4 linked regions of the Homo sapiens genome follow. The protein of the gene in region 1 purifies or fractionates together with the protein of each later gene. This does not show direct contact. Each region holds a gene or a part of one and is shown in the gene's direction. Other genes may lie near its edges.

Region 1 (7,975 bases):
ATCTAGGGTTGGCGAGGCTGGAGGGCAGGGTGAGCCTCCACATGGGTGCTGAAGCAAGAAACCGACAGATGTTGAGGAGAATGGTGTGACCTAGGAGTCAGCATCCTTGGTGAACAAGAGGAGTGGCCACAAGGCCAGTGGCACCTGCCAGAGGGGAAAGCAGGCATGACAGGATAGCATCTCCCAGGTGAGAGCCTTTTGAGGAAGGGAGGGTGGGCAGTGGTCTGGAAGCTTGATGCAGAGCAGTGTGGGTCCCACTGGCAGCCCTTGGTCTTAGAAGAATGGGAGTACCCAGTGGGGGAGCAGCTGTACAATGAGGTAGACTCCTAGAGGTTAATTATCATCTCCTAATCTTACCCTGACCCTTTTGTCAAACGTTATCTAGATTAAACCTCAGTATAGGCAGGCTGCAGGAAATGGACATTCCAGTGGCCCCTGGGGTTCCAGCCTGTAGCAGCTTCATCTGTGCTTTGTGCACTTGGTTCTCAGTCATCTCTGCAAGGGACCCTGACGCCTGGGAGATCAGAGCCACTGACCCTTTATGGCACTGCTAACAGACCCCTTCCCTCAGGTAATTCTGGATCCAGAACTCATTATGGGATGTAATCCAGGTCAACACTAATACCACTTGGAAGGTTCCGCTCTGTCTCACTCTGCTTGAGTATCCCACTGATCAGTCTCTCAGTGCCTGCCTACTGGGCAGCTCATCTGTCCACTTATTCGTATTAAATTTGCTTTTTATTTAGGTCTCTGGAGATGGTTGCGTGGGGAAGAGCCCATGACTTTCCTATATGATCCCTTGAACATACTCTCCAAGTCAGTAGATTACCTCTCAGGCAGCCTTCATAAAAGTGTTTCACTGTACTGGGGTTTGTGTTCATCTCACTCACATAGACAGTCTCTGGGTAGGCAGGTGGGGGGTGATACAAGTTCACACTCTGTGTTTCTCCTCCTGTTAGCCATTCCCACCCTGCTGATGTTTAAGGAAAGCCAGGGATGATGACCCACTTAAGCTTTCCTTGGCCTTGTTAAGTCCAATCATCTGGGGCAGGAAGAAGAGAAATGCTCATTGCAATCTTTGACCCCCACTAACTGCTGTGGTGACTTTGACCCAAGCCCTTGACCTCCTTTTCCTTATCTGAAATGTTGCTGTGATTCCTGTGGTGAGATCAGATGAGGCAGCACTTGGGATAAGCTTGCAGAGATGCATTGAGCGGTATGAAAGTACAGGATGCTATGTACTTTCCTGCTTCACAGCACATTTTGTTTCTTGCAAGGTGAGTGGCCCAGCCGCCTCTCCACAAACACGTGTTTCTGCCTTTCTCAGCATAATCAGCAAGATGTTCCCACTTCTCAGCATTGCACTTTTCTGCTGGTGCAGAATAAAAACACTTTGAGCCCCACCCTGTCCTGAGACAAAGTCCTCTGTGGTCACTTGGCATATGGCAAAGCTGCTGCTGTGGGCTGGAACATTTGAGGCAACAGTGACTTCCTCCTTTCCTAGTTACCGGAACCCTTAGAGCTGGGAGCCGGCCAGTGAAACAGACAAGGGGAGGGGAAGAGAAGAGGGAAGGCATGTTTCCTATATGAGTTTCAGTTTGTTGCACAGAAATGTTTTTGAAACCTTTATCTCCAATAGAATCACAAACGGGTGTCAGAGAGTCAAAACTAGAGGAAAAAGTTTAGTCTGTAAACAAATCATTAGATGGCATCAGAATTTGAACCAAAGTAAAAGATGCTGGACCTTGGCACTTATCAGAGAAGTATAGAAGAGCCAGGTAGGGGATTTTATTTACAACATGTTCAATTCTGAGGAAGAGGAGTATGGGCAGGGCAGAGGAAAAAGGAAAAATGGGAAACCCCCATGGACTTAGGGCCCCCACAAAGAGAAACCATGTGCCTTCTCCCCACTTCCCTTCTGGCTTGGGCAAATGAGGCTCCCTTTAGGGGTAGAGGTACTCTACAGGGGCTATGTTCCCTTTAGGGGTAGAGGTAGTCTACAGGGGCCAGCTGGGCAGAGATGAAATCTTGCAAAGGAACCCTTCTTACACTCGAAAAGCAAGAATAGCAAAGGGACTTTGGGAAGGACATAAAACAAGAAAAGGAAGCTCCTCACCAACAGCTCCCAGATGGAGGGAGTTTGTGTGTCTAGCATTTTCACCAAAGTGCTGCTCATCCTGATGCACAGATGCAGATTGGAGCTGCTGCCTGTGCCCTCACCATGGGTATGTACCCACCACAGGCATTCCCAGGTGATGCGGGGGCAGAGGATTCCCTCTTTCCACTCAGGATAACAACCCCTCGATGGGGTTTTCAACAAGTATAGAAAGCTCCTGGACTCAGCCAAGACCCTCACCTACAGTCCCAGTCCTCCCACCTTCTTCAGGTCTCTAGAAGACAGAACTGATGGGTTTACAACATCCTATTATCCAGCACTAGTCCTAGGTTGTGGATGTAGGGAAAGGCCAGGTAAACAAGGAAGGGAGAACAGGTGAATGACCCCAATTGTTTGAAACCAAAAGAGCAGAATTGCCCCTAATTGATTTAAGTAAACAGCAAGTAACATAGGTCTGTTAAATAGAAGAGGATGTGAGCACCAGATGCACGTGATAAAGACCATGCTCTGGAAGATTCATTCCAAGGAGTAGAAGTGGTATTTACTCAGGGCATTTAAGGAGAGCAGGGACTCTGAAATGAGGTGAGAGAAAAGATAAGACATGCAGGAACAGCTGGCAACACCAAGAAAGAATTTAAGGAGAGGGATCTCTCTGTTAGAGAACTTAACATTACCCTAGGAACAGCAAGAGCATCATCAGCCCCAGGAAAATCTACCTCTGATATGGAGACCAGGCTTAAGAAAATCCCCTAGAACCCAGAGAAAAAGTGCAAAACAAGGAAAATGGCCAAAGAGAATATCATAGATACAGAGATCAGACAATGAGAATCCAGAGTCTTGTTAAGTGATAGAAGGAAAATACTAACAGAACACATGTAACAGGAACAACATTTTAGAGGAAACAGGACAAAAACTTCCCTAAACTCAAGATACTACACCAGAAGTGGGCAGTACTCACTATGTTCAGGGGAACAAAAAGATAAAAACTAAAAAGCATCAGACTGTTTTTTGTGTGAAGGAAATTTGTAAGGTAGGAGAATTAGGTCACTTACTACAGCACAAATTGCATGTCTATCTAAATTGACGTTTAAGTGCAAAAGCATGGATATTACTCATGCAGTTTTACTGGAAAACCATACAGATGTTTTTCAGGAATGTACAGAATGAATCAAAGGAAATAACTGATCGACAGGAAAACTGTAGGAAATTTGTGGGCTGGCTGTGAGGCAGTGGCTCCTATTATGTACAATTTTAGTGCTAAGTACTGTGTTAATGATGGCTATCAAACAATATGTTAACATCTGAAAGGAAATATGTATATTGAGCATAATAAATATTTTATAAATAACAATAAATCATTTGATTTTATGCTAGTTCCCAGGTTCTCACTTATTTTAGTAAAAGTGAGTAGTGAGGAGGGAGAAAGAAGCATAAAAATGTGATTCTGCTGAGGAAATTAGCAGGATTTGATTTCTGAAAACGGTAAGACTCGTGAAATTTTACTATTTCAAAGTACATACCAAAACAATATGATTCTGGCTGAATATGAAAAGATGAGAAAGAATGCCAGGGAATTACAGTAAAAAAGTAAGAGATCATCATAATATTAATATCAAAGGCACTAGAATTCTTTAATTGATCAAGAGATTATCCACAATAATCACATAATCACCAACAATTTCAGATTATATACAGCAAAGTCTATTAGAAATTAAGAAAATAGTATTAATTAAGAGAGTGCTAAGATACTTTCAGTCAATGTTTGACAGTTAAAATGTCAGGTGTAAGTATGCCTATGTAGTATTGAAAAAGAATAAAAAGGAAGATGCTGATGACAATTAACATTTTAGGGATGCCTACTGTGTGGCAGGCACTATTCTAAGCTCTTTTCATGTATTAACATATTGAGTCCTTAGAACAATCTTATGATGTAAGGATACTATTGTCTTCATACTCGAAACAGACTCAGCACAGAAGTCAAAAATATAATGAATGTACTTTGCTTAAATATTGAGCTCTGTAACTTCAAGCAGTGAATGTAATTTTAAAGGGTCAGGAAACATTTAGCAAATTAGTCGTTTATTGGACCTTATAAAACCTCAGTAGGCCGAGCACAATGGCTCATGCCACCGAGGCATGTGGATCACCTGAGGTCAGTAGTTCGAGACCAGCCTGGCCACCATGGTGAAACCCCATCTTTACTAAAAATACAAAAAAAAAAAAAAAAAAAAAAAAAAAACTAGCCGGGTATAGTGGCGCATACCTGTAATCTCAGCTACTCAGGAGGCTGAGGCAGGAGAATTGCTTGAACCTGGGAGGCGAAGGTTACAGTGATCCGATATCGTGCTACTGCACCCTAGCCTGGGTGACAGGGAGAGGCTCTATCTCAAAACAAACAACAACAAAACCTCAGGGGAACATCACACACTGGGGCCTGATGGGGGTTGGGGGGCTAGGGGAGGGATAGCATTAGGGGGACTACCTAATGTAGATGACAGGTTGATGGGTGCAGCAAACCACCATGGCACATGTATACCTATGTAACAAACCTGCACATTCTGCACATGAACCTCTGAACTTACAGTGTGTATATATATATATATATAACCTCAGTAAATCCTCTGGTCTTCTATCACCCTCTAAGAAATAATAAAGCACATACCAAGTTCTGGACCACATGTAGTAAAACTAGAAATAAATTACAGGGACAGACACTCTGAAATATTCCTGTTATGCCTTTCTATATTGTTCGAATCTTGCACAATATGTATGTATTCTATGGTCATAAAATGACTAGTTAAAAATAATAAAAAGGAACTATTTTTTTCTTGTGGTGTATAGAAACCAGCCCTACTACATCTAAAAAAACAAAAAAAAAAGGGCTCATGGGTAAGTGGGGACCTATCCCAATAAGCATTTTGGGGTAATATGTGGAGTTGAAGGAAGATCTCTTCCCCAGCCCCAAGTGATCAAAATCAGATTAGAGGCTGATTGATTGACTCTGGGCCGTGTGCTCGCATGGATCCCCTGTGCTGACTGGAATATGCAGTGTGACTGGGCCCTCTGCTCTCTCTGTGGCCAGCAGGGTGGAGAGTTGTGATTGCCAGTCTCACCAGATCAAGATCTGGGGGAGAAGAAGATCTGTATGGGAGGAGGCAGTATATAGCACAAACACCTGATGTCCACCACACAGCAGGGAGAACAAAGCCAGGTGAACTCACACAAAGGTGCAGGGCCAGAGACCATGTTATGTTAGAAGCATGACACAGGAAGGGGAATATCACACTCTGGGGACTGTGGTGGGGTGCGGGGAGGGGGGAGGGATAGCATTGGGAGATATACCTAATGCTAGATGACGAGTTAGTGGGTGCAGCGCACCAGCATGGCACATGTATACATATGTAACTAACCTGCACAATGTGCACATGTACCCTAAAACTTAAAGTATAATTAAAAAAAAAAAAAAAAAAGAAGCATGCCCTATGGCATCCAACCTGGAATTATGAGGATAATAAAAAGGAAACAAGGCTAGAAATTAATATTGCCAGAAGCTAGTCTGTGGAAAATTCTTCCTAATCTTACAGCTCATATACAAAAACAAACAAAAACACAAAAAACTTGAGTTTTTTTTAACATTTGAGAAAAATTTTAAAACTTTACATTATGTTACCAATAACAAGTTGTGAAACCAAAAAAAACTGTTTAAACTATCAGTAATTAAAAACACAGTTTGATTACCATCCTAGAGGAAAACTGAATAAACTTCCAATTCACCATGTGTAGAATGATAGCATAAAATTGTCATATGAAGACTAATCAAATAGTATGCAACTAAAAAAAGGTAGAAAAATATTATAAGAGCATATTAGGTAATTAATTATGTTATTTTTCTGGATTTTTTCATGATTGTAGGATTTTTTAGTTTTTTCAAGTTGTAATTTGTTGTGAATTTATATTCTAAATCACTTTCCTTTCATATCTAATTTTGATTTCCTTTTTCTTAAAAAGTGTTCCCAGAGTTGTAAAAGATTCAAGCCCCACACAACACGTAGCTCTGCCTATGCATTGAGGCCTGGCAGCCCTGGACACTTGGATGGAGTGAAGTGGGGCCGGAAGTAGCTTTTCACTATTTTACCTTCCCTGAAGACCCTGATGCTGGGGCTGAGACCCAAACGAGAAAGCTGGGGTATAACGAATAGGGAAATAACTATCATCTGTTTGAGTTTTTTTCAGTTTGTAGAACTAACTGAAGTTATTCCTTATTTATCCAAGAGACGGTAAGTTATGTAAATGTTCTATACCAGGACTTAGAGGTGATGAAGAGGATAAGAGGTGAGGGAGAGAGAGTAATCGAACCCCAGTGAGTGTAAGTGGCTGAGAAATGCTGGCCTCTGAACCTGAAGCCTTTCCTTGGTGTTGGTGTACTTGGTGGTCACATGGAGGATTTAATGTCCCTAAGGCAGTTGTCTTCCACGGGAGTGACACCCCTCCTTAAAGGGAGTCTTCCTGTTACCAATGTCATATAACAAACCATCCCCAAATTTAGTGGGTTAGAATAACAGCAATTCATGGTTGCAGTCAGATGGAGGTGACAGCTCGAGTAGCTGGGAGCTTGAGTAGTCTCTCAACTGAGAGCAGTAGTCTCTCTCTCTTCAGATCATCTCAGGGCCTCTCCATGTTGTCTGTTTGGGCTTCCTCACAGCATGGCCACCTTATGGCAGTGAGACTGCTTACATGGTAGGTCTGGGCTCCAGCATGAATGTTCCATCAAGCAAGGTGGAAGTCGCATGGCCTTTTCTGACTCAGCCTTATAAGTCACACAACTTTACTTTTCCCACATTCCATTGGTAACAAACTAGACACAAACTCACAAATTCAAGAAGTGGGAGGACTGGGCTCCAAATCTTGATAAAGGAGCAGCACAGTTCTGGAAGATGGTGTGGGACAGGAGATATTCTATGGCAATCTTTGGAAGATACAATCTGCTACAGTGTCCCCAAATCCTTATTGTATTTTTTATTATTTATTTATTTTGAGACAGAGTCTCACTTTGTCACCAGGCTGGAGTGCAGTGGTGCAATCTCAGCTCACTGCAACCTCCGCCTCCTGGGTTCAAGCGATTCTCCTGCCTCAGCCTCCCAAGTAGCTGGTATTACAGGCACCCACAACCACGCCCGGCTAATTTTTGTATTTTTAGTAGAGACGGGTCTCACCATGTTGGCCAGGATGGTCTCAATCTCTCCACCATGTGACCCACCCACCTCGGCCTCCCAAAGTGCTGGGATTACAGGCGTGAGCCACCCTGTCAGGCCGAAATCCTTGTTGTAAAAAGGAGGCACTGGGTCTGAGAACCCTGTCACAGCCCTGAATACATTTCGGATGGAGCCAAGCACTAACTGACAGGATTAAAATCAGAGTGCTTGGCAGCAGGTCTTGCTCCGGTGCTTGACTTGCAGCTGTCATCCTGCTCCCACCTCACATGGGCCTGACAGATGTGAGGCTGCCAAATCACGTTAGAAACCTCTGCAGATGGACACAGGTTGGTGCCATGTAAAAAGTCAGAGGGAAAGTTCTGGATTCTGGACTTTTTTTCTTCTAAGTTTTAAAGCCGTAATAATGTTCTAAGAAACCTCAGGTCTGGCTTACCGTTGTTTCAGGTATTCTAAGACACACATCTTTAAAATCTCTGAAATAGGAATGAGTCTTACAATTGATGCCAGGTTTTGTTCTTGACATAGTTGATATTTGCTGCATACGGCTTTAAAAGTTTTAGAAGGAATGTCAGCAGCTTGGGAAGAAATCCAAGAGACGAATGTGGGGAACTCTTAAGAAACGTTGCAAATCATGGCTCTTAATGGC
Region 2 (7,486 bases), on another chromosome or scaffold:
TGTGACCTGCTGCTGGCTGCACATGCACAGTTCTCCAGTGCCCACTGCTCTGGCACGGCCGTTCGTTTGCTGCCCAGAGTTTCGTGAGCACATACTCTGTGTCTGGCACTTGGCAGGGTGCTGGGTGATCAAGAAGGACACAGTCACCAGCTCCTTGGAGCTAACATTCAAGTAGGGAGGAGAGAAAGGTAATGAACAGGATACAGGTTGTGGACAAGGTTTCATGTTCCAGGACAGAGGCAGGAGTGGGGTGCACGGCAGGTACAACCAGATAGAAGATGCCCTTGTGCTTGGTGGGACAGCCTCAGGCAGGGGATATGTGTCACTCAGTGACCGATCGCCCAGGTTCTGTATCTGATCTATGACACAGGTGTACCCAGTTTGGCAAATATGTCTACACCAATGTTTGGTGTGCTTTTCTATTTGCATCTCATACTTCAATACACAGATTTAAAAAGTGGCAGCTGGATGCAGTGACTCACACCTATAATCCCAGCACTTTGGGAGTCCAAGGCGGGCAGATCACAAGGTCAGGAGTTCGGGACCAGCCTGGCCAACATGATGAAACCCTGTCTCTACTAAAAATACAAAAATTAGCCAGGCGTAGTGGCACGCACCTGTAATCCCAGATACTGGGGAGGCTGAGGCAGGAGAATTGCTTGAACCTGGCAGGTGGAGGTTGCAGTGAGCCAAGATTGTGCCACTGCACTCCAGCCTGGGCGACAGAGCAAGACTCTGTCTTGGGAAAAAAAAAAGGTGACCCAGCTGCTGGGAGGGAGGCAGAGTGGAAGCCAGAGGCGAGGGGGAGGGGTGACATCACCCCCAAGGAGCTGTGGCAGCCTGGGTCTGACACCGGATGGGAGAGAGGGAGAGTCGTTAGGTCCAGGACTGTTTTGGAGGCAGTGCCAGTGTCACTTGCCAATGAGGTGGGGGCACGGGTGGAATTTGCCAAGTCGGGGTTGCCTGAGAGAGAAGCTACCTGTGGGAGAGCCAGAGCGGGTCCGGCCCTGGGAAATGCTGTGTTATAGGGGGTGCCATGGGGAGGGGAGGTAGAGCTCTAGCCCTGGGGCTTGGCGGAGGCTGTGGGGCTGCACACAGGAGGTGGGAGTTGTCAACATTTGCTGAGACGCGTCAGGTCAGGACTTTGGACTCCAGAACCAAGATGCTTCCCCCGAAAGGTCCTTAGAGCGTCTGGGGGCTGGTGGTTTTCCGACTTCATTTAGCCTGGGACTCCTTCAAACAGAAGCTCCTGGTTAAAGGGGTGGGGGCACCCCTCCTTCCACTCACGGGGCCACCGAAGGGTCTCCGCCACCACCTGGCAGATTCTCGCTGGGGGAGTACCCATACCTGCGGGGTCTCCTCTGGTCTCCCAAGCTTTGGCCAGAGGCTCTGGGATCCCTAGTGGAGTACAGGCCCCTGGCTGTTTCCCCAAGGGAAGGAAGCTCCTGTCTGCCCTTCACTGATCTACAGATGAGGAAAACTAAGGCCCAGAGAGGTGGCCCAAAAGCCCAGAGCCACACAGCAGCTCTCAAGGAAGCCCTCGGCCACACAGGAAGGTCTGACTGACTCAGGGACCCAGTTCTTAGGGGCTACCAGTCACCTGTTGTACAACTTGGGGACAAGTTGCCTCCCCCTCACCCCTTGCCAAGTTGCCTCCCCCTCACCCCTTGCCAAAGGCTAGTGGCCCAGTGCTGCAGGGGAGTGCGTGTGATGAAGAGGCGCATCCTGCTGCTGTTCACCACGGGTTGAGGGGGCGCAGGTGGGCCCAGGTCTCTGGGGGTGGAAGGCCAGAGAAAGCTGTACTGGCTGTGTGCAGGAAGGGTGGGTGTTGCAGTCAGCATAGAGGACACAGGGTGACAGTCACCTGGGAGTGTGCGCAGCGCCAGACATGGAGCCTTTAATACCACATCCCTGGCTGGTGCCCAGAGACCCCCCACCCCCCAGAGAGAGGACAGACCGTCAGGGCAGAGAGTAAGGATGTGTCACCCACATCTTGTCACTAGCATAAGGATTCATCCTTGCAGGGAGCATCCCCTCAAGATTGCCCTGACCTTGAGATCAAAGTGGGTATCTACTCCCCGAGGCCACAGGTTCCTCAGGCTGCTCTGATACCCCAGTCTCCTGCCTCCTTGGACAGTTCTCTGCTGGGGATGGTCAAAAACTCACTTATTGGGCCAGACGCGGTGGCTCACGCCTGGAATCCCAGCACTTTGGGAAGCTGAGGCAGGTGGATCATTTGAGGTCAGGAGTTCAAGACCAGCCTGGCCAACATGGTGAAAACCTGTCTGCAGCAAAAAATACAAAAATGAGCCAGGCATGGTGGTGCGCACCTATAGTCCCAGCTACTCAAGAGGCTGAGGCAAGAGAATCGCTTGAATGCAGGAGGTGGAGGTTGCAGTGAGCTGAGATAGCACCGTGGCACTTTAGCCTGGGTGACAGTGAGACCCTGTCTCAAAAAAAAAGTCACTCATTGGACTTTGTTTTTGTAGACCCTTCCCTTTTTTCCTTTCTATCTATTCAGGCATACATTTTAATTTAACATATGACAGTCATTGACAGAGAATGTGTAAGATGAGAATTTGTTCACCTTGCCGGGCGCGGTGGCTCACGCCTGTAATCCCAGCACTTTGGGAGGCCGAGGCGGGAGGATCACGAGGTCAGGAGATCGAGACCATCCTGGCTAACACGGTGAAACCCCGTCTCTACTAAAACTACAAAAAAAAAAATTAGCCGGGCACAGTGGCGGGCGCCTGTAGTCCCAGCTACTCAGGAGGCTGAGGCAGGAGAATGGCGTGAACCCAGGAGGTGGAGCTTGCAGTGAGCCGAGATCATGCCACTGCACTCCAGCGTGGGGGACAGAGCGAGACTCCGTCTCAAAAAAAAAAAAAAAGACCGGGCACAGTGGCTCATGCCTGTAATCCCAGCACTTTGGGAGGCCAAGGCGGGCGGATCATGAGGTCAGGAAATCGAGACCATCCTGGCTAACACGGTGAAACCCCGTCTCTACTAAAAATACAAAAAAATAGCCAGGTGTGGTGGCTGGCGCCTGTAGTCCCACTTACTCAGGAGGCTGAGGCAGGAGAATGGCGTGAACCCAGGAGGCGGAGCTTGCAGTGAGCCGAGATTGCGCCACTGCACTCCAGCCTGCATGACACAGCGAGACCCTGTCTCAAAAAAAAAAAAAAGAATTCGTTCACCTTGCTGCCCCTCCCCACACCCCGGGTTTCCTCCTGATCTTTCTTTCACATCCTTTCTTAGCAGCAGCATCGGATTGATCTGGCTAATACTGATCACTCGGGCTAAAGGGAAGAGGCTGGTGGGTTTAAGTTGTGGGGCAGGGAGGGTGGGTTCTGGATCTAGGCATTTACTTTGAGAATCTCCATAGCCAGGTAGAGGGCATGGGGGCCAGCCAGGTCCCCTAGCCCTGGGGAACAGGGGGCACCAGGGCCCATGCACCCCTCCTGACAGGCTCTGGCACTTTTCCCAGCTGTCTGAGTGGTGGCTCAAGACCGCCTACCTCCAGTACCGCCAGCCTGTGGTCATCTACTCGAGCCCAGGCGTGATGCTACCCAAGCAGGACTTCGTGGACCTGCAGGGTCAGCTCCGGTGAGTGGCTGGGGTTTGGGGGCCAGGAGGCAGCCGGGCCCCTCGAGTTCACTTCGCCCAGCCGCTTGGAGGGGCCCCGACCCTGTTTATCTTTCTGCCCCACAAGCAGCCTTATGAAGTAGGGAGCATCCTCCCTATTTTACAAATGGGGAAATTGAGGCTCGGAGCAGGGAAGGGAGCTGCCCAAGACCCCATTCAGGAAGCAGGGTCTCTCCAGCTCTAAAGCCTCATGGCTGTTAACCACCACATCTTCGCAGAGGCCCCATCCTCCTCCATACCTGAGGCTTCTCCCCGACCCCAGTTTTAGCACTTCACCTCTCCTTTCCACTCTTCTCAGCTAGCCACAGGGGTGACCTCTGTACACAGTCCTCTTTTCCACATTCAGCCAGGTCACCTGCCCCAGCCCCTATTCCAGTCCTACCAGAGATAAAAATACCAGTGACAAGGATCTCCTGCCCAAGGACCAGCCACTGGCTGCCACCACCTGCTTCTCTTAAAGGGACCAGGGTACCCTGGGAAGGGCCGGGGTTCAGGCCCAGGAACTCCAGCCACTGGTCCCCATGGTGGGATCCAGGGGCGGCCCCAAGCATTGAGGGTGGTTGCCATGGGCCAGACAGCCCTGGGAGGAAGGCGGCCTGGGGGACACAGAGGCCCAGAGTGGGGAAGGGACCTAGTGGAGGGAACACCGGAGCCACTGCTCTCCCATCACACCACCCCAGGGGCCCGGGGCCTCCAGAACCGATGCTTCAGAGCAGATGACACCCCCTCCAGATTCTAGGCTGAGGTTCAGGAGCTCAGGCCCTTTGTGGGTAGACCCAGCCCACTGACCCCTAACCAAGCCACACTCCAGCTGCAGGGGGCCAGCACCCAAGTCCTACTAGGCCCTTGGCCACCAGCACTTCCCCGAGCCCTCCCGACCATGCTCCCTCTAGAGGTTATGAAGAAGCACACACAGGCTGGCAAGCTGGGACTCGCAGGCCCCTCCCTTGCGCTCCCAGGCTTTCTGGAAGCGGTGAGAGAGGCTGGAAGACTAGACCTCCCGCTCCCCAAGCAGGTGTCCCTAGCCCGGGGCCTCCCTCAGGGTGTCCACGCAGCTTCTAATCTCTAATCAATCTTTCCAGATTTGCTGCCAAACTCATTGAGGGTGTGTTGGATTTCAAGGTCATGATTGACAAGTGAGCATCCCCACCCCTGCCCAGCCCCACACCTGCCCAGGCCTGCTTAATTACCACAGCCACCTCTGACCCCAGCCCTGGCCCGGCATGCCAGCTTGGGCCCTGGGCCCTGCTCCAGCTGCTGGAATCTCCTCTTGGTGGGTGACCCTGTCCCATCCCAACTAAAGAGGACCCCAGAGTTTTATTCGCTGCTTCATCTCCCCTGTGACAAACTGAAGCCCAGAGAGGGGAAAGGAGGGAGTTTCTAGATGACTTCTGAACAGGGCCCATCTGGGGCAGAAAGCGAGCCCCCTGCCCACAGCACAGCCCTGAGGTGTCCTGCTCATCTGGGAGTGGGAGCAGGGACACTGTGTGAGCCCCCAGCAGTACCTAGCAGGTCCCTGTCTACCCTGCCCTCCTCCCCATTCACTTGCCCAGTGGTGGCCTCACTGCCCCTCTACCCCATAGCGAGACCCTGCCCGTGGAGTACCTGGGGGGGAAGCCACTGTGCATGAACCAGTACTATCAGATCTTGTCCTCCTGCCGAGTGCCGGGCCCCAAGCAGGACACAGTCAGCAACTTCAGCAAGACCAAGAAGCCTCCCACGCACATCACCGTGGTACACAACTACCAGGTGGGTGGCCCCCACCCACACCTACAAGCCCCGGCCCTGCTGCAGGAGTACAGCCGGACGGCCGCAGTCGGCTTCCCCACTGGGGTTCCCCAGCACACGTGCCCACGTGCCCCAGGAATGGGCGCCCCTGGCTTCTCCATTGGGGGCCCAGGGAGGCCAGGAGGGGCCGTGGGCCTGCCCAGCCCAGAAGGGTGATCCAAGGACCTCCTCCCCCTCTCACCCTTGGCCTGACTCCATCCCCTCCAAGGCCAAGGCCAGGAGGAGGCAGGTGTGGGGAGGTGGCTGCTCTCAGCCTGAGGTCCCCACTCAGCTCCCTCCTCTTACCTGCCTGTGCCCCAACAGTTTTTTGAGCTGGATGTGTACCACAGTGACGGGACACCCCTCACTGCGGATCAGATCTTTGTGCAGCTGGAGAAGATCTGGAACTCATCCCTACAGACCAACAAGGAGCCTGTGGGCATCCTCACCTCCAACCACCGCAACTCCTGGGCCAAGGCATACAACACCCTCATCAAAGGTGCCTCTTGGGGGCCGTGCTGGGGCTGCACACCCAGGCCTCTTCCCCTGTTGGGGACCAGCCTCAACTCCACCTGTAGGGTACCCGAAGTCTGCTGGCAACAAAGGAATGAGAAGAGACAGGTTAAGAGTTCATGAAGGTGGGAGCCAGGGGCCAGTTGCAAAATGGAGGCTGCAAAAGGCGCAGAGTTCTGGTCTCCACACTATTGAGTGCAGTCACTTAGCTCTAAGAAGCACATGTTCAGGGCGAAACAGTGAAAGGGAGGCAGTGCCTCATAGGAGGCATAATCTATAGCAATAGCAGTTTAAATGAATCTCCTTTGTGCTCAAACAGCGTGTCTTTAACTTATCGGAGAGTAGCTGGTGGGAGCGGGCTTAACTAGGAGCCTGCACATCTGTCCACTTCCCAGTGTTTCAAAGGAGTGTCTTTCTCCTTGAACACAGTGTTTACAGATAGGAGAGCGGGTCTCGCTCTGAGCATGGGAACATGATGGCAATTAGTAGGCTTTCCTCCTCCGTGGCCTCTTCTGGCTTTCCACAACTTATTGTCCCCTATTTTTATGGCCAGTTTATACAGGCACCCCACAAGTCCTTTTCCCAACATTCCCCCGGCATGCTGGGCCCCGCACAGCCATGGGCAGACATGTTTCCCGCTGCATCCTCTCAACGTGGAGCAGGCAATGTGGGCCCCATGTCCTAGTTGAGGACACCTCATGGTTAGGGTAGTTTCTCTCAGCTAAATAGCAAGTTAGGATTAGAGTCCAAGTCCTCTGGCTGAGAAGCCCACCCGCCTCCACACCCCCTGTGCCCCCAAGTACCAGCAGTCCTCCAAAGCATGTCTTGCTCAGGGGCATTGACCCCAAAGTCAGACCACCTGTGTGGGTTCCCCGGCTGCCACACCAGCTCCCATGTGACCCCTGGGCTTCGGTTTCCTGTGTCTAAAGTGGGCCAGGTGTTGGGCCCTGCCTCGAGGAGTGCTGTGGGCCTGCAGGGTCCTGTTGAGTTCGAAGCTCTGAACCCACACCCTGCACTTGGTGAATGCCCTGGAGGGCCGGCGAGGTGGGGGGTCTCCTCATCCCAGAGAGGTACAAATGGGTCAGAAGAGCCCAGGGCAGGAGGCTGCGGAGGGGCTGGTCCATCTCTCCCACACCATGAGACCCCATTTTGCGTCTCCCCGCCCCATGCCACCTGCAGACAAGGTGAACCGGGATTCCGTGCGCTCCATCCAGAAGAGCATCTTCACCGTGTGCCTAGATGCAACCATGCCCAGGGTCTCAGAAGACGTGTACCGCAGCCACGTGGCAGGCCAGATGCTGCATGGGGGCGGCAGCAGGCTCAACAGCGGCAACCGCTGGTTCGACAAGACGCTGCAGGTGAGGCCCGGCAGGGCTTCGCCCACTCACACACACCTGAACAGGACCTCTGCAGCCTCGGGACTTCCTGCCCGTCCCCGGCCCTGCGTCCCCAGCCTCCTAGCTTGTAAAGCAGGCAGGAAGCCAGCAGGCTGGACGCTGCCGTAATTACCAGGCAGCCAGCCTGTCATCACCAGTCCTGCCTCTGGCCTGGAAACCGCTGT
Region 3 (8,107 bases), on another chromosome or scaffold:
CTCCTCTGAGGCAGCAGCGGTGGGTCATGACTTGGACGCTGAGATGGAGGAGAGGCTGATTCGGGGAGCTGGAGCTGGAGAGGGGCGTCCACGGGGAGAACAGACGGGGGATGACCCAGCCAGACGAGGACTGAGTTCTGCACTGGCCGGGGCAGCAGCGGGGGCATCTCTGCTCTGTTCGGGCATCGGCTGAATCCCACCCCTCATCCCACAGACGTCTCAGGAAACTGGGGGCAACCTGGGGGGAGCCCCGTGGGCTGTGGGAACCCCTGCCCCCGGCTTGGAAGCTGCCCACAGTGGCCTGGTTGCAGCCTGGCAGATGAGGGGTACATCACTACTCAGAATAAACGGCCCCCTCTGCACCCACCTGTCTAGATGAGGGTGACAGGCACTATCACAGGGCCCCCACCTGACGCCTTCCCACCTGGCCATGCCCCCCCAGAACTGTCATGGAGCCCAGGAGGCGCCTGTGTGGAGCACGGGGACCTGGCACGCTGCTGCCCCTAGATCTCAGACTCCCATCTAAGGACCAGACCTGCTGCCTGTGCCCAGGGAGGGGCCCTGACACCCTCTGTCCCCGTCAGAACAGGGCCCCAAGCCACTGCATTGCTCCGTCCTCACATGCCCTCCCTTTCCTCGCAGGGGAGCCTGGAGCTGTTGGTCAGATGGGCAGCCCTGGGCAGCAGGGGGCTAGCACCCAGGGCCTCTGGGAGTGACAGGTGAGCCCCTGCTGCCTGCATCTATCTGCCAAGGCTGAGGGCATCCAGGAAGGAGGAGCTCCTGAGGGGCCAACGGGTGGGGCCTCATGCTGTCCAGGGTGGGGTGCTGGGAGCACAAGGCCCAGCAGAGGCAGGCGAGGTGGCCCTGGGGAAAGTAGGGTCAACTATGGACCCCGTAGGGGCAACAGGAATGTGGGGTCACAGGGTGTGGGGTCACAGGGCGTGGGGTCACAGGACGTGGGGTTCCGGAGATGGATTGGCGTGCTGGGAGTCTGCTGCACCTCGTGGGATGCAGAGTTGCGTGCTGGGGCGGAGGAGGCCCTGACCAGGGTTAGCGCAGCAGGGAGAGTGGAGCTCAGGTGTTTGCTCAGTGGGCACCTGGTCCAAGTGTGGGAAAGCTCACAGGAGTCCCAGGAGGGGCCTGTGAGGCCCTGGGTATGTCGATGAGAGAGGCAGGGTGGGGGCCATAGTAGCACCAGGTAACCTCTGCCTTCCTCAGGAAGCGCTGGGCAGGCGGACCCTGTGTGCAAACTTAGCTGAGGGGCTGGTCCCAGCAGCAGGTGTGGGGACAGGGTCCCAGGAGCAGGTGGTGGGTACAGCACAACTCCGGCCTCAAGTAGCTTCAGGGGCCAGAGCGTGGCGCAGGGTGTGTGACCTGGGGCCCATGAGGGGCCGGCACCTTTGAGCTAGGGGACTCGGCAGGGGCTAGGAGGGCTGAGGAGCACAGGCAGGAGACCCAGGGGCTCCTGGTAAGGCTGGGGCAAGAGGGCAGCTGCCTGAGATGCCCAAGAATCAGGTCAGAGCCCAGGGCTAAGAACAAGCAGCCTTGCTTCTCCTCCACAGACCCGTCAGAGAATGACCCCACCCACGGCCCTGCCCGCAATCCTGCCCACTTACGGCCCTGCCCATGGCTCTGCCCACTCACGGCCCTGCTGGACGCAGTGTGCAGAGACCCAGGATGCGGGCTCTCAGGGTGGCCACAGTGCCAGGCGCTGGCCCTGAGCCGGTGTCCAGCTGTCTTCGGCCTCTCACATCTGTCCTCCCTTCTCTCCTGCCAGGACATTTTCTGCACTGCCCCGAGGAACGCTGAGCCTTCCTCCCTGGGTTTGTCTGGACACCGAGAGCGACCACATCCTGGAGAAGCCAGGAGAAAAGCTCAGGAAGAGCCTGCAGGTGGAAGGAGAGGGAAGCAGCGGCCTCGGCCAAGGCCCACCCCATACTCTTGGCTCTGTAGCATTTCCAAGTTCAGATAAACCCCTGAGTGCTCACCCAGCCAAGCGAGGCGGGAGTCATTTCCTGGGAGAGTGTCCCCCACCCTGGCTCTGTGCACCCCACCTTGAGGCCCTGCAGCTTCAGCCGCAGTGGGGAAGGGGAGGGGCTGGGCTGATGGCGAATCGGGTTCAGGAGGGCAGCAGTGCCCTGTGGCCGTCTCAGTAGCTCTAAAACAGGCTCAACAACATGCCCCGCCCCTTTCTCTGGGCCTCATCTAAGCCTGGCCAGGGCCCTGTGGGCCCGCCTCTCTCTGCGCCTCACGCAGGCAACAGATGGTTCCACTGCTGGCCCACCAGTCACCTGCACGATGGCTCCTCCCTCAGAACAGCACTCCCACCCCGGCCCCAGCACCTTCACATCTGGGCACAGGCAGGTCCCTGCCTGCCTCATCGTCCCCTCTGTCCCCAGCCCAAGAAGGAGTTCAGATCCTGTGTGTGAATGGCCACCCCTCACCCACCCAGCCCTGTGCTGAGTTCCTTGTGCAGGGACATTGCTTTGAGACTTGGCACCATCAGCCCCTGGTCCTTAGGGTCTCAGAGCAAGGTCATCCCTCAGCAGGCTTCTGGCCTGTGCGCTCCTCAGCACCTCTGCCCAGGTCTCTCCCAACCATCACAGACGCTGTGTGAGCCTGGACTTCCTGCCTTATCCCCACTGTGGCCCAAACAGCATGGGGGCAAGCTCAGAACACACACCTGGGCTTCTGGGCCTTGTGGCCCGTGGGGGTGATGTGGGAACTTCTACTTCCTTTCCAAACAAATATTCAGTAACTAGTCCACTGTTACCACTTAGGCAGCTAAGCAAGAAAGGTGCCAGAAATGAAGAGGGAAGCCATATCATTGAGGAGAGAATGAAAAGTATTAAAAAGGAACAAAGAGAGACCCTTGATATTGACAGAAGGAAAACCCACCAAGATCACCAGTGCAGCATTGCGTGCACCAAAGCATACCCCAAAGAGGTGAGCGCAAAACAGCTTCAGGGCAAACACTTCATCTATGATTCAACTGTTCCAGGAACTGACCAGACCTGGAGACCAAATAGAGAGTCATAGGCAGGGTCAGCAGGATGGGAGAGAGCGCCTGCACCCACAGGAGCCACAGCCCTGACTGAGGCCAGGAAGCAGCCCCAAATGCCAGCTCCCACTGCAGCATGAGAACAGAAACAGACCACTGAAAATTCCCAAAGTCTGTGGACAAATCAGACGTCGAAGAAGTCACGTGGCATCGAGACAGATTTTGCACTGAGGGACAAGGAGAGCATGTGGCCAAAGTAGGTGCAGGTAAAGCAGCATCTGGGGCAGAGTTATAGCCTTCAGTGCAGGTATCAGACACAGTTGTTGAGAGCAGCAGCCCAAGCCAGCCCCTCCGTCCTGCAGGGAGGACACCTAGGTCACTTGGCTTCTGTTGGGGAGCTGAGTTGCTTCAGATTGTGTGACCAGCAAAACAGCTTGGTTGCTCTCACTTGGTTTCTCCAGGGCGGGGAATTACATGTCCCCAGCTGAACTGAGAAGGCTCTTTGAGCAGTGGAGTGAGCAGGCTTTGTCATGAGGCAGGAGTGGGGCTAGAATCAAGCCCAGAGCCCACAGGGCATCCAGAGCCTTCCAAAGGAGCCCCTCTCCTGGGGCTCTCCAATTTGATGAAGGGACTGGGCACTGGGTGGCTGAGACCACATTGGCAGCCAGGAGGAGGCAGCCTGGCCGGGGGGAACCAGGGTGGCTCTAATCCCCACCACCCCCTCAGCTGCCCTACCCCCGCCACGCTGGTGTGACACCAGTGATGCTCAGCCTCAAAAGGGGAGTCCGGCTGTCTTCGGGAAACTGACTTTATGCTGGAGGCCAATTAAAATGGCACAGCAAAGGCAGCGGCCAGCTGGTGCCCAGGCAGCTTAGGGACTGGTCCCTGAGGCCCCACCCGCCCCAGCCTGTGCAGTGGAGCTGAGTACGAATCAAAGGTGAGGATGGCAAGGGAGCTGAGAGCAGCCTCCGGATGCACCAAACCGGCCTGGCTCCTGTTTGCAGGAAGGCAGCCTCCCCGAGACCCAGCCGACCTGCACGTCTCCCATCAGCCCCGACTCCACCGCATCCCTCTGGGTCCTTTTAGGAGCCCCCAGGGACTGAGCCGGGGCTCACGCTCCTGGCCAGAGCGCTGGGTTTCTGGCAATGCCTCCCCTCCTGCCTTTACGGCCACAGCTCTCCCCTCCAGAGGCCCCTCTGTAGTGGGCCTCGGTCCCCTCTCCACCCCCAGAGGCAGCACAGCTTCAGCCCTACGCAGTGTGGGGGCTCCGGGAGGAAATGCAGGGAGGTGCTTGGTCTTGGCCCAGAGCTCATGGCCTTAGGTGCTGCCCCCAGTCACCCCCGTGCCCATGCAGCCGGGGATGTTCAGCTCAGGCCAGCCACCGAGGTGGTGTGACGCAAGGCTGATCTGACGCTCAGCTCAGGCCGCTGGGGTCATGGGGGTTGTGGGAAGGTCATGGAATCACGGGGCTCACGCTGGGGTCACAGGGTGGTGTGGCTGTGTGGACTGTAAGGGGCGTGCAGCCATGCGTATCTGACCTGCCCTCCCTAGGTCTGCAGGCAGTGCCGAGTGGCTCTGCCTGAGGCCCCAAGAGCGACCTTGGAAGCTCCAGGCCTTCACAGCCCCTCTGAGAGCCACCTGCAAGGTGGGGAGCTGGGAAGAACGGCTCAGTGATGAGCTCAGAGGGAGGGGTGGGCACAGCGCCCAGGAAGGCGGGTGCGTGCAGGCCTGGGAGGAATGTGTAGCAGGAGGCAGGGGGTGCTGTGCCCGCAGGACCAGCAGGTGAGGCGTGTCCACCCACAGAGGATGGCTCTGGCCCAGGCAGTGTCAGAAATGGAAGCTGAGGAAACCCAACCCCAGCTGTAGAGGAGCCTGCCCCGATGCCATCTGCACCTGGGGGGCGACGTATGGCTGCCAGCCTCTTCATCTACCAAGGACCAGGGCAGTGGGGACGGGAGAGCTGGGACACGTGGACTCACACCAGGGCAGATGGTGGGGGAAGCCAGTGTCTGTAGATTCAGTGCATTTCTTGGGGAAGGGCGTGGAACATTTGGACTTGAGCCCCAGCACAGAGACGATGTCATAATACAGCCCCCCATCGTGATCTGATGGTAAGTACAGAACTCCTTGCCCAGTGGAGAAACACTCTCCTCTCATGTGTGGAATATCCACACACTAACCATGAACTGGGCCATAAGAAACCTTACATTCCAAAGGATCCTGCTGTTCAGAACTCACTCACTCACTGATGAAACTGGAAAAACAACCAATGATAACAAGCTAAAGAATGCCTCTAGAAGCTAAAAGACACACCCATGACTCCACAGTAATTCATGGGTTAAAGAGAAAAAAGGAAACGTGAAGATACTTGTAACCAAATAATGATGGATGCAGCGCCACGTCAGAATCTCTGTGCTGCAGCTGCAGTGGTACCTAGAGGGCAATTTATAGCTGTAAATACAGTGCTTTGTTTTGTTTTCTTGTTTTTTGAGACAAGGTCTTGCTCTGTCACCCAGGCTGGAGTACAGTGGCATGATCTCGGCTCAATGCAACCTCTGTGCCACCCTGGGCTCAAGTGGTCCTCCTGCTCCGGTCTTCTGAGTAGCAGGAACCACAGGCGTGCGCCACCACGCTTGGCTAATGTTTTTTGTATTTTTTTAAATAGAGACAGGGTGTTGCCGTGTTACCCAGGCTGGTCTTGAACTTCTGAGCTCAAACGATCCACCCTCCTTGGCCTCCCAAAGTGGTGGGATTACAGGTGTGAGTCACCTCACCGGCCCTTAAACACAGTTTTTAGGGAAGATTCCAACTCAAACAATTTTAAATAGTAGAAAATAAACCCTGAAGCAGTGTGCATTCATTAGTACTGTGTTTGCCTGTATTTAATTAAAACCTGATTGCCATTGGCTTCCCTAAATCAGTTTTTGCCATCACACGTAAAGTCCTGTGGGCAGGAATGGACATTGAGGGAATCCTGGGCTGTTTGGCCGTCCTTGGCATGTAGCTGCCCTTCATCAGAAGATGGCAGATCCCAGCCCTTCATCACAAGATAGCGGATCCCTGCCCTTCATCACAAGATGGCGGATCCCAGCCCTTCATCACAAGATGGCAGATCCCAGCCCTTCATCACAAGATGGCAGATCCCAGCCTGTTTGGCCGTCCTTGGCATGTAGCTGCCCTTCATCACAGGATGGCGGATCTCAGCCCTTTATCACAAGATGGCAGACCCCAGGCTGTTTGGCCATCCTTGGCATGTAGCTGCCCTTCATCAGAAGGTGGCAGATCCCAGCCCTTCATCACAAGATAGCGGATCCCCACCCTTCATCACAAGATGGCGGATCCCAGCCCTTCATCACAAGATGGCGGATCCCCACCCTTCACCACAAGATGGCGGATCCCAGCCCTTCACCACAAGATGGCGGATCCCAGCCCTTCACCACAAGATGGCGGATCCCAGCCCTTCACCACAAGATGGCGGATCCCAGCCTGTTTGGCTGTCCTTGGCATGTAGCTGCCCTTCATCACAAGATGACTGCTGCTGCTCCAGGAGCTACACCTCACTTGGCGGAAGGGGCGGGAGTCCTCTGGGTGAAGAGCACCAGTGTTAACAGGAGTCCCACTTGGAGACTTCTGCTTGTACCTAAGGACAAAGACTGCAACTCTCCTTGTCCAGAAAACAGACGTTTTAGCTGAACACGTTACCACCTCCCACAGAGTGACTAAACGCGCCGTGTAGGGCTCGATGTGGCTTCAAGTAACAATAATAACAGGATAAGAGTGGCTCTCGCAGTGTGGAAGTGACATTCTCAGAGGCACGGGGAGGCCTCTTTCCCTCACCTGGCTCTGCATCCTCCACACAGGACACTGCCCTTGTTTCCACTGTTGGGTCATATTCCAACAACAGGAAGAAGAGGAGGGAGGAGAAAGGCTGGCCCGGAATCGGGTCACATTCCAACAACAGGAAGAAGAGGAGGGAGAAGGGCAGGCTCGGAACCTTGAAGGGCACATTCCAAAGGTGTCCTTGCCACTGTCAGCTACATCCCTGTGGCCAGACGTCGGTCTCACGGCCAAGCTGAGCTGCAAGAGTAGAACCTTTTCTGGCTCCTTCCTGAGGCAAGAGGGGAAAGGGAGAGTGGGGCCAGCCCTGGGCCAGCCACGGGGTGGGGAAGGTGGCCCCCACGTCCCGGAGGGCTCAGTGAAGTGCACCTGGCCAGAGAAACGAGAGGGCCACCACAGTGCTGGGGCAGAGAGGACAAAACCATGGATGAAGACAAGGCTGAAAACCAGAGCCCTCTGACCCATTTTACGCCAACAGATCTGCAGGCCCAGGTGAAATGGGCGTTCAGACATCCGCATTTCCAGAAGAGTCCCCACAGACTCCTGGAAACAAGATGGCCACTAACAGAGGCTCCTGCCTGGTGAGACGCCAGGACTGGGGAGGGAGCCCGACAAATCCAGGATCTGAACACAGAAACGGAGAAACCCTGGGGACGACTCAGGCCACCCTGTGTGTGCACGTGTGTGCGTGTGTCTGCGTGCATGTGTGTGCGTGTCTGCATGCATGTGTGTGCGTGTGTGTGCATGCACGTATCTGCGTGTGTGCGTGTCTGCATGCACGTGTGTGCGTGCGTGTGCGTGCACGTTTGTGTGCGTGTCTGCGTGCACTGTGCACGTGTGTGCGTGTGCATGCACGCGTGTGTGACAGTAGCCCACAAGAAACCATTACATGACAATGGACTGTCTCCTCCCCAAATCCGTACACACACACACGAGGCATGCATTTGCAAACACACACCCATACACACACGTACTCACACATTTGTGCATGCACAGCGCTGTTATCCATGTTGAGGGGACGTATTCACAAGGGAAGGTGGGGTATCTGAGATCAAAAGCATTGGGAGAGACAAACCGGAGAATCTGTACCAGGCAGAGAAGAATTCATGTTTGTTCTCTTTGATCTATTAATTTTTTAAAATTGTAATCTCTTAAAGAGGCAAGGAGGGATATCGGTAACATGACGCCAGAATTATAGGTATAAAGGAAAACCAACTAGGAATATGATGTGTATAAAACATAAAAAGAGAAATGTTAAAAGCGGAGCTG
Region 4 (7,486 bases), on another chromosome or scaffold:
TTCTAGGCTGTTCCCACCCACGAAGAGCTAATATGTCTAATTTCCCCAGAGACAGGGAGCTTCTTAGAAGAAGGACTGTGGCTTGTTCTATCTCTAGTCCTAGCATAGTACTTGGCACATACGGGTGCTCACTGAATGTGTGTCGAAAGCATGGTCGATAAATGCCATGAATGGATGGTAAAATGCCTGTCGACTACAGAGCACTTCACCATTCGCAAAGCACCTTTGCAGGCCTGTTCACGCTTGAACGTCATGGCCCTGCTATGGAATAGGCAAGGCAGTCTCTTCATCCCCTTCGAGCCAAAGAGTAAACAGATAACTTGCCAGGTCCCACTGGGTTTTATTGGTTTGTTGTTTGAGACAGGGCCTCTCTCTGTCACCCAGGCTCAAGTGCAGTGGTGCAACCATGACTCACTGCAACCTCTGCCTCCCAGGCTCGAGTGATCCTCCCCCTTCAACCTCCGGAGTAGCTGGGACTACAGGCATGCGCCACCATACCTGGTTAATTGTTTAAAATGTTTCATAGAGACAGGGTTTCCCTATATTGCCCAGGCTGATCTCGAACTCCTGGGCTCAAGCGATCCTCCTGCTGCAGCCTCCCAAAGTGCTGGCAAGACTTTACAGGTGTGAGCCACCATGCCTGGCTCAGGTGCCACAGTTAATAAAAGGTGGGGAAAGTTAAGTGGAGCAGTAATGGAAGTGCAGGTTCTCCTCCAGCTTGACGTGCCCTTACTTAGGGGTTGTCTCTTACCTGGCAGGGCTGGGAGGAGATGGGTAGTTCCTGAAAGGCCGATGGAGAAAACTGGGGAGTAGGTTACTACTCCCGTGACTGCCCAGGCCTCTACCCAGACCTGTTTCCACCTGTGCACTGAAATGGATAGGTAGCCACATGTGAGAGGTGAAGAGTCCCGGCCCCAGACTAGAACCCGAGCCAGGTCCCGAGCTGGCTGCTTCCTCCACTCAACATCCCCAGCTCAGTACTCTCAGGCTCTTGGTGCCCCTTGCTTATCTGACATCTGGCCCCTTTGCCTTAACTGGCTGCTTTCAGCCAGCTTCTTAATTCCCTGGAGACAGAAACTGCCTGCCTGCCTTGTGACATCATCTGAGAGTGGGAGCTGGAGCCCAGGTGCCATTTGGCATATAGGGGCTTTCTTCTTCATCTGCAGGTGCCCAGGATCTTTAGCACCTGGCACTGAACACCTACAGGCCTGTGGAATAACAGGGGCCGCCCAGCTGCCTCTCTTAGGGCCTCCATCTGCCCTCTCCTTTATCCCTTTCCTATTCTGTCTTTGGCTTTCAGGCCCTCAGGAGAAAAACTGGCCCACCAAGGAGTCTAAAATCCTAAGACCTTGGATTCAAGCCCAGGGTCCAGGCACGCTTCCCTGGTTCCTCAGGAAGGACCCCAGTGACCTGTTTATTCTCCAGGAGGCAGGGGCTAGGGGTGAAGGCATGGTCCTGCTTTGTAAGATCTGTCTGTCTGCACAGGCAGGCTCTCCCAGGCTTCACTATGGCATCTCACCTTTCCCGGGAAGGCGAAGGAGGGCCCTTTGCTCCAGCTTGGTGTAACCTTGTCCCTGTCCTGCTGCCTTGGGATTAGGCTTGAGGTTGGGAAAAGGGTCTGGGGGATTTTAGGCTTACAAGAAGATCTGGAGGAAACCTAGTGGTCTCTAACACATTGTCAGCAGCCTACCCCCTGGCTTGGCTGGGTGTGCCATGCCCTTGGTTCCAGGGAGACTGATCTGGGACAGTCAAACCCATAGCTCCTCTCCCTACAGTTCCAGAGAGGTGGATCGCATGGTCTCCACGCCCATCGGAGGCCTCAGCTACGTTCAGGGGTGCACCAAAAAGCATCTTAACAGCAAGACTGTGGGCCAGTGCCTGGAGACCACAGCACAGAGGGTCCCAGAACGAGAGGCCTTGGTCGTCCTCCATGAAGACGTCAGGTTGACCTTTGCCCAACTCAAGGAGGAGGTGGGTCCTGACCTGGAAACCTCAAAGTGGGCAAGTACTAGCTCCCAAGCTGCCCTAGCTGGGCAGAACCAGGAGCGTGGGCACCTGGCTATGGGGCAATGTGCTAGGGCTGCCAGAGAACCCCGAGGGATGGCAGGAGAAGGAGACAGGACTGACGCACAAGGGGTCCAATGCCTCCTGTATCAGCAGCTCCTGGGGCACCTGTTAACTATGCAGGCCCCAGGGCAGACCCACTGAGGCTGGGAATCTGCCTGTCCCTTTGTCCCCAGTGACTGTGATGAGAACTCCGGGCTAAGGGCTGAGGGTGGGAGTCTTGGGCCCCTTCCTGCTTGCCCCCTTTCACCCCTTGCGCCCCATCTTTTACACTAGGTGGACAAAGCTGCTTCTGGCCTCCTGAGCATTGGCCTCTGCAAAGGTGACCGGCTGGGCATGTGGGGACCTAACTCCTATGCATGGGTGCTCATGCAGTTGGCCACCGCCCAGGCGGGCATCATTCTGGTGAGGAGGGGCTTGCTTGGCACAGCTTGGTGTGCATGGGGGAACATCACTGAAGGGGAGCCCCTCAGGCCCTCAGCCCCAGGATCAAACCAGTGCCTTGTTGGTTTCAAACCAGGTAGTGCTTTCTCCTGAGGCCCACCAAGGAGGTCTCTGGGAGTTAGGGGGCTGTAGAGTGCTGCCTCTATGCCTCCTGGGGGCGGAGGGGCAGCAGGAGGGACAGGGTCTGCCCAGAATACTGATATGCCCTCGCCGCTTCCACCAGGTGTCTGTGAACCCAGCCTACCAGGCTATGGAACTGGAGTATGTCCTCAAGAAGGTACAGCTCATTTGTCGGGGAGGGGCCCGGCTGGGGCCTGGCACAGGGGGCTGCACAGACTCTGCTTGTCAGAGTCTGACGGTGTGAGCTAGGGCATGCATAGGCGGGTGATACGCAGAGTGTCCTTCCTTAGGCCATGTGTGATTGGAAGGTGGCCCCAACTCCAAGGAGAGCGTGGTTGGTCAGACACAAACCTGGCGTGAGTGTGCAGGGACGGGGGCATGTGTGTGTCAGGGCAGAGGTGTGTGTGTGTGTGTGTGTGTGTGCGTGTGTCCATCCTCATATGTGATGCATATGTGTCTCAGGGTGTGGTGTGTGTGTCTCGGGGCTGGTACATGTGTGCATTTGTCTTGGAGTGTGGTGCCTGTGAGTGTGCTGGAGGTGTGTGTGTCAGAAGCGGGTGCATCTGTATGAGAGCAGCTGATTAGTGAGGACTCCCCCAGAGCTCTAGTCTGGGGCTCCCCGCTGACTGGAGGTGGGGGACTCCCCTTCCACAGGTGGGCTGCAAGGCCCTTGTGTTCCCCAAGCAATTCAAGACCCAGCAATACTACAACGTCCTGAAGCAGATCTGTCCAGAAGTGGAGAATGCCCAGCCAGGGGCCTTGAAGAGTCAGAGGTGGGTGTGTCCCAGGTTAGTGGGTGGTGCATCATTCAGCATCCCTGATTCCTTCACTTCCTACCCACCCTGCCCCCTCCCTCAGCCCCTGTCTCTCACCATCGTCCCCAACCCCAGGCTCCCAGATCTGACCACAGTCATCTCGGTGGATGCCCCTTTGCCGGGGACCCTGCTCCTGGATGAAGTGGTGGCGGCTGGCAGCACACGGCAGCATCTGGACCAGCTCCAATACAACCAGCAGTTCCTGTCCTGCCATGACCCCATCAACATCCAGTTCACCTCGGTAGGGCAGAGGTCTCCAGGCCCCAAGCCCAGATGGACACATGCCCCCTGTCCCTGTGACACTTCCGCGGGGATGGGGAGACAGCAGAGGAGAGCATGCCTTCTTTACTGAGACTGGCCTTCAGCTGTCCTCTCTGCCCTGGAAAATATCAGCACCTGGTGTCCTTGTCACATTTCCTCCCCTAGCCCCCCGCCCTCTCCACTCCAGCCCTCTTGTTCCCGGTGCAGTGGCAGATTCACTGAACCAACACAGGTTGGAACTGCTACAGGCTGCCCCTCATTTAGCTGATGAGGAATCAGAGACGCAGAAGAGAGAATTTGCCCAAGCCAGCTTGTGGGTGGCAGAGTTCTCTGGGCCATGTAAGTGGCATGAGAACGGAGACCTTATCTTCTGCATTGCTGGACCCTGACACCTGGTATCGTGGTAGACCTTTTGCAAATATACTGAACAGATGGATCTGGGGCAACAATCCCTGTCTCCTGATTCCCGGTCCCGTGCTCTTCAAGGCAGTGGCCCAGGGTGGGAAGGAGATGAGAAGGAGGCCAAGCCATGCCCTGTTTGCCTTGTCAGGGGACAACAGGCAGCCCCAAGGGGGCCACCCTCTCCCACTACAACATTGTCAACAACTCCAACATTTTAGGAGAGCGCCTGAAACTGCATGAGAAGGTGAGGCGGCACTAGGCCCAGGGCAAGGCTGCAGGAGGGGTGGCTCAGGCAGGGGTGGGGGGCTGGCTGGGCTCCCCTTGCCAGCTAGAGAGGAACTGGCGTCTGGCTCCAAGACAGACCCAGCCTCCTGTCTCCATCACCAGACACCAGAGCAGTTGCGGATGATCCTGCCCAACCCCCTGTACCATTGCCTGGGTTCCGTGGCAGGCACAATGATGTGTCTGATGTACGGTGCCACCCTCATCCTGGCCTCTCCCATCTTCAATGGCAAGAAGGCACTGGAGGCCATCAGCAGAGAGAGGTGGGCACTGGTGGACAGGCTACTTGTGGGCTGATAAAACCCTCTTCTTCCTCACTCCTGGGCCCTGACACCTTTCCAAGCTGCCTCCTCCCTCCAGCCAGGAGACTGAGGATGGGGACAGTGGAGGACCCCCAGGAGAGGACCAGTTCCTGCCTCAGGAGCTTCTCCTGCCTATTCCCTTTGCTGCAGTTTCATGGCGGGGTGGGTGAGAACAGGGAGTTCCCTTCCACTTCCAAGCCTAATTTCGAGACCTCCTCCTATACAGAGGCACCTTCCTGTATGGTACCCCCACGATGTTCGTGGACATTCTGAACCAGCCAGACTTCTCCAGTTATGACATCTCGACCATGTGTGGAGGTGGGGTGGGGCCAAGGGCAGCCAGGCTTGGGGAGGGGGCTGCTTCCCCCACAGGAATGGCCCGGGTGAGTTAGCTATGCTCCCAGTCTTTTATATAGGGGGCAAGAAGGACGCTGTAAAAATGTGGGTGGGAGGGAGGGAGATCCCCAGTGTCCCTGGACACCAGCCCAGGGCCAGCTGCCAGGTGTAGGAAAGGCTCGGGGTCAGAGGAGAAAAGGGAATGTTCCTCCCCTGAATGAGCTGTAGGTGAAAGGACTCCACTGGGCCTGGAGAATTGGGGAGCTGTGTCAGCCCTCTCTCTGATTCAGGTGTCATTGCTGGGTCCCCTGCACCTCCAGAGTTGATCCGAGCCATCATCAACAAGATAAATATGAAGGACCTGGTGGTGAGTGGTGACTGCGGCCCGGGCTGTGGGCAGGCCAGGCCTGGGATGACAGCAGATGGACAGACATGGGGATGAGTCCAGGCCAGATGTTCAAAGGAGACCCTCTCAGCCAGCCCTCCTTCCAGAAAGCAGATGTGAGAAAAGATAGTCTGACCTCATCAGCACCTGGTGGGTGAAGGAGATAGGTGGCAGGGGAGTAAATATAATACATACATACATTTATATTTATAGAAATCTCAGGAAGAAATTGCAGCATGGGAAGATGGACAGCAAAGCACCGATGTCCTGCTAGAACGTCCTGGCAGGTGGGGGCTGGCAGAGTTGGGGCATGGGCTTTAAAACCCTTTCTGGAAGCAAGGGGTGGGGCAAGGATCTGATGATTGTTTCCACGTGGCAGGGAAAGAGGAACAGAGGAAGGATGATCCTGGGAGGGTGGCCATCCTGATGACCAACCTGTTGTGGTTCTGATTGACTTGGGGGGGGGGTCTCAGCAACAGCTTCTCCAAGAGGAGCTGGAGGGTGGGGAAGGCATGAAGGCTGGGGAGAGGCTCAGCCTTCCTTCTCCCCAGGACACTGCTGGGTGGAGCTGGGTTGGTAGTGGAGTGCCCGAGGCCCCCTGCCAGGACGTGTCTAGGTGTAGGCAGCTCTGTGCATCAGCAGAGGCTGTGGGGAGAAGGTATGGGTGGAGGTGAGAAGGTCAGTAGTCTCTCCGGTGGAAGGCAGAGGCCAGTCACCAGGACTGGCTGGGTCAGAACCTGCAAAGAGGCAAAGATCGATGTCAGTACTCCAACAACACAGATGATGCTTGAAGAAAATGGTGGAAGTCCTGGGCAGGACCTTTTCCTCCCTTCAACAGGGGACCCAGTCGTCCCCTCCTCTCTCTGTAAAAATGGAGGGTCTGCCTGACCCTCCAGGGCCAGGGGGTATCCTGGAAGATACCAGCTCACTTGCTGGAATCACCAAAGAGGGACATAGGGGACCTGTTTACCTGGCCCCCACCTGTTTAATGGCGGCCAGCTTTCTTGGACCTCTTGGTGGGGAACTTGCAGCTGCGGAAGGCGTCCGTGTCACGGATGTGCTGGCCCTTGAACTTGGCAGGTGAGGCACAGGTGGCATCTGGGCGGGAGGCCTTGGCTTCCAGCCACCTGGAGAGACAGAAACTTGCTGGGGCTGGGGAAGAAGGTGGGAGTGCTGGGGGGAAGGGCAGTGAACTATGGGGCCAGGATTGACTTGGCCACAGGATAGTCTGAAGCTGTCATCTTCATTTTACAAATGGGGAAACTGAGGCTCCCAGGGTCCCATGCTTATTAGGTAGCAGATCTAGGATGCATGTCCAACATGTCTTAGTGCAGGGCTAATGTGCCTCTATCACATGAGGGTGGGCTCTGGGAGTGACATGGAAGTGTTCTTACCGCCGAAGGCCCCGGAGCTGGCAGGTACACTTCCAGGGGTTATTGGTAAGGGCGAGGGTCTCCAGGCTGTCGAAGGGGAAGTTGGAGGGTAGCTGGTTCAAGCGGTTGTTCTCCAAATGGACGTGTTTCAGCGTGGTTACACCCAGGAAGGCACCATCTGAGAACTGGGGAGCAAGGTGGGAGCAAGGTGGGAGCAAGGTGGTCATGAGTGAATGAGTAAGCACCCGAGTGCCAGAGGGGCAGGATCCTTCCCTGAACCTGAGCCATAGCACTTTGAGGAGTTTCCCAGTTTTCAAAGCAGTATGACCAAGTGATCTCAGATAATCCAATCTACACAACCCCCTTTGAGACAGATGGTGTTATTTTCTTTTTTTTTTTTTTTTCCTTTTTTTTTTTTTGAGATGGAGTCTCACTGTGTTGCCCAGGCTGGAGCACAGTGGCACGATCTCAGCTCACTGCAAGCTCCGCCTCCCGGGTTCACGCCATTCTCCGGCCTCAGCCTCCTGAGTAGCTGGGACTACAAGTGCCCGCCACCATGCCCGGCTAATTTTTTTGTATTTTTTTAGTAGAGACGCAGTTTCACCATGTTAGCCAGGATGGTCTCGATCTCCTGACCTCGTGATCTACCCGCCTCAGCCTCCCAAAGTGCTGGGATTACAGGCGTGAGCCACCACGCCCAGC

What was found.
Region 2: the proteins of NUDT16 (region 1) and CRAT purify together in Homo sapiens (affinity purification with mass spectrometry; one large-scale study listed by BioGRID and IntAct). This does not show direct contact.
Region 3: the proteins of NUDT16 (region 1) and COL20A1 purify together in Homo sapiens (affinity purification with mass spectrometry; one large-scale study listed by BioGRID and IntAct). This does not show direct contact.
Region 4: the proteins of NUDT16 (region 1) and ACSF2 purify together in Homo sapiens (affinity purification with mass spectrometry; one large-scale study listed by BioGRID and IntAct). This does not show direct contact.

What each region holds. Positions count from the first base shown.
Region 1 is NC_000003.12:131,385,342-131,393,316, forward strand, and holds the end of NUDT16 (U8 snoRNA-decapping enzyme), read left to right. Parts: 3' UTR 1-3,489; downstream 3,490-7,975. UniProt on the Homo sapiens protein: RNA-binding and decapping enzyme that catalyzes the cleavage of the cap structure of snoRNAs and mRNAs in a metal-dependent manner. Part of the U8 snoRNP complex that is required for the accumulation of mature 5.8S and 28S rRNA.
Region 2 is NC_000009.12:129,100,308-129,107,793, reverse strand, and holds part of CRAT (carnitine O-acetyltransferase), read left to right. Parts: intron 1-3,487; coding exon 3,488-3,606; intron 3,607-4,727; coding exon 4,728-4,781; intron 4,782-5,228; coding exon 5,229-5,394; intron 5,395-5,736; coding exon 5,737-5,911; intron 5,912-7,104; coding exon 7,105-7,283; intron 7,284-7,486. UniProt on the Homo sapiens protein: Catalyzes the reversible transfer of acyl groups from carnitine to coenzyme A (CoA) and regulates the acyl-CoA/CoA ratio. Also plays a crucial role in the transport of fatty acids for beta-oxidation.
Region 3 is NC_000020.11:63,328,943-63,337,049, forward strand, and holds the end of COL20A1 (collagen alpha-1(XX) chain precursor), read left to right. Parts: intron 1-14; coding exon of another isoform or gene 15-193; exon of another isoform or gene 194-299; intron 300-642; coding exon 643-716; coding exon of another isoform or gene 717-719; intron 720-1,777; coding exon of another isoform or gene 1,778-2,156; 3' UTR 2,157-5,864; downstream 5,865-8,107. UniProt on the Homo sapiens protein: Probable collagen protein.
Region 4 is NC_000017.11:50,458,902-50,466,387, forward strand, and holds part of ACSF2 (medium-chain acyl-CoA ligase ACSF2, mitochondrial isoform 2 precursor), read left to right. Parts: intron 1-1,775; coding exon 1,776-1,971; intron 1,972-2,340; coding exon 2,341-2,469; intron 2,470-2,731; coding exon 2,732-2,785; intron 2,786-3,282; coding exon 3,283-3,401; intron 3,402-3,518; coding exon 3,519-3,684; intron 3,685-4,254; coding exon 4,255-4,350; intron 4,351-4,493; coding exon 4,494-4,651; intron 4,652-4,916; coding exon 4,917-5,008; intron 5,009-5,316; coding exon 5,317-5,393; intron 5,394-5,594; exon of another isoform or gene 5,595-5,624; coding exon of another isoform or gene 5,625-5,698; exon of another isoform or gene 5,699-6,396; coding exon of another isoform or gene 6,397-6,538; intron 6,539-6,805; coding exon of another isoform or gene 6,806-6,969; intron 6,970-7,486. Other genes in the region: CHAD (chondroadherin precursor), read right to left, coding at 6,397-6,538, 6,806-6,969. UniProt on the Homo sapiens protein: Acyl-CoA synthases catalyze the initial reaction in fatty acid metabolism, by forming a thioester with CoA. Has some preference toward medium-chain substrates. Plays a role in adipocyte differentiation.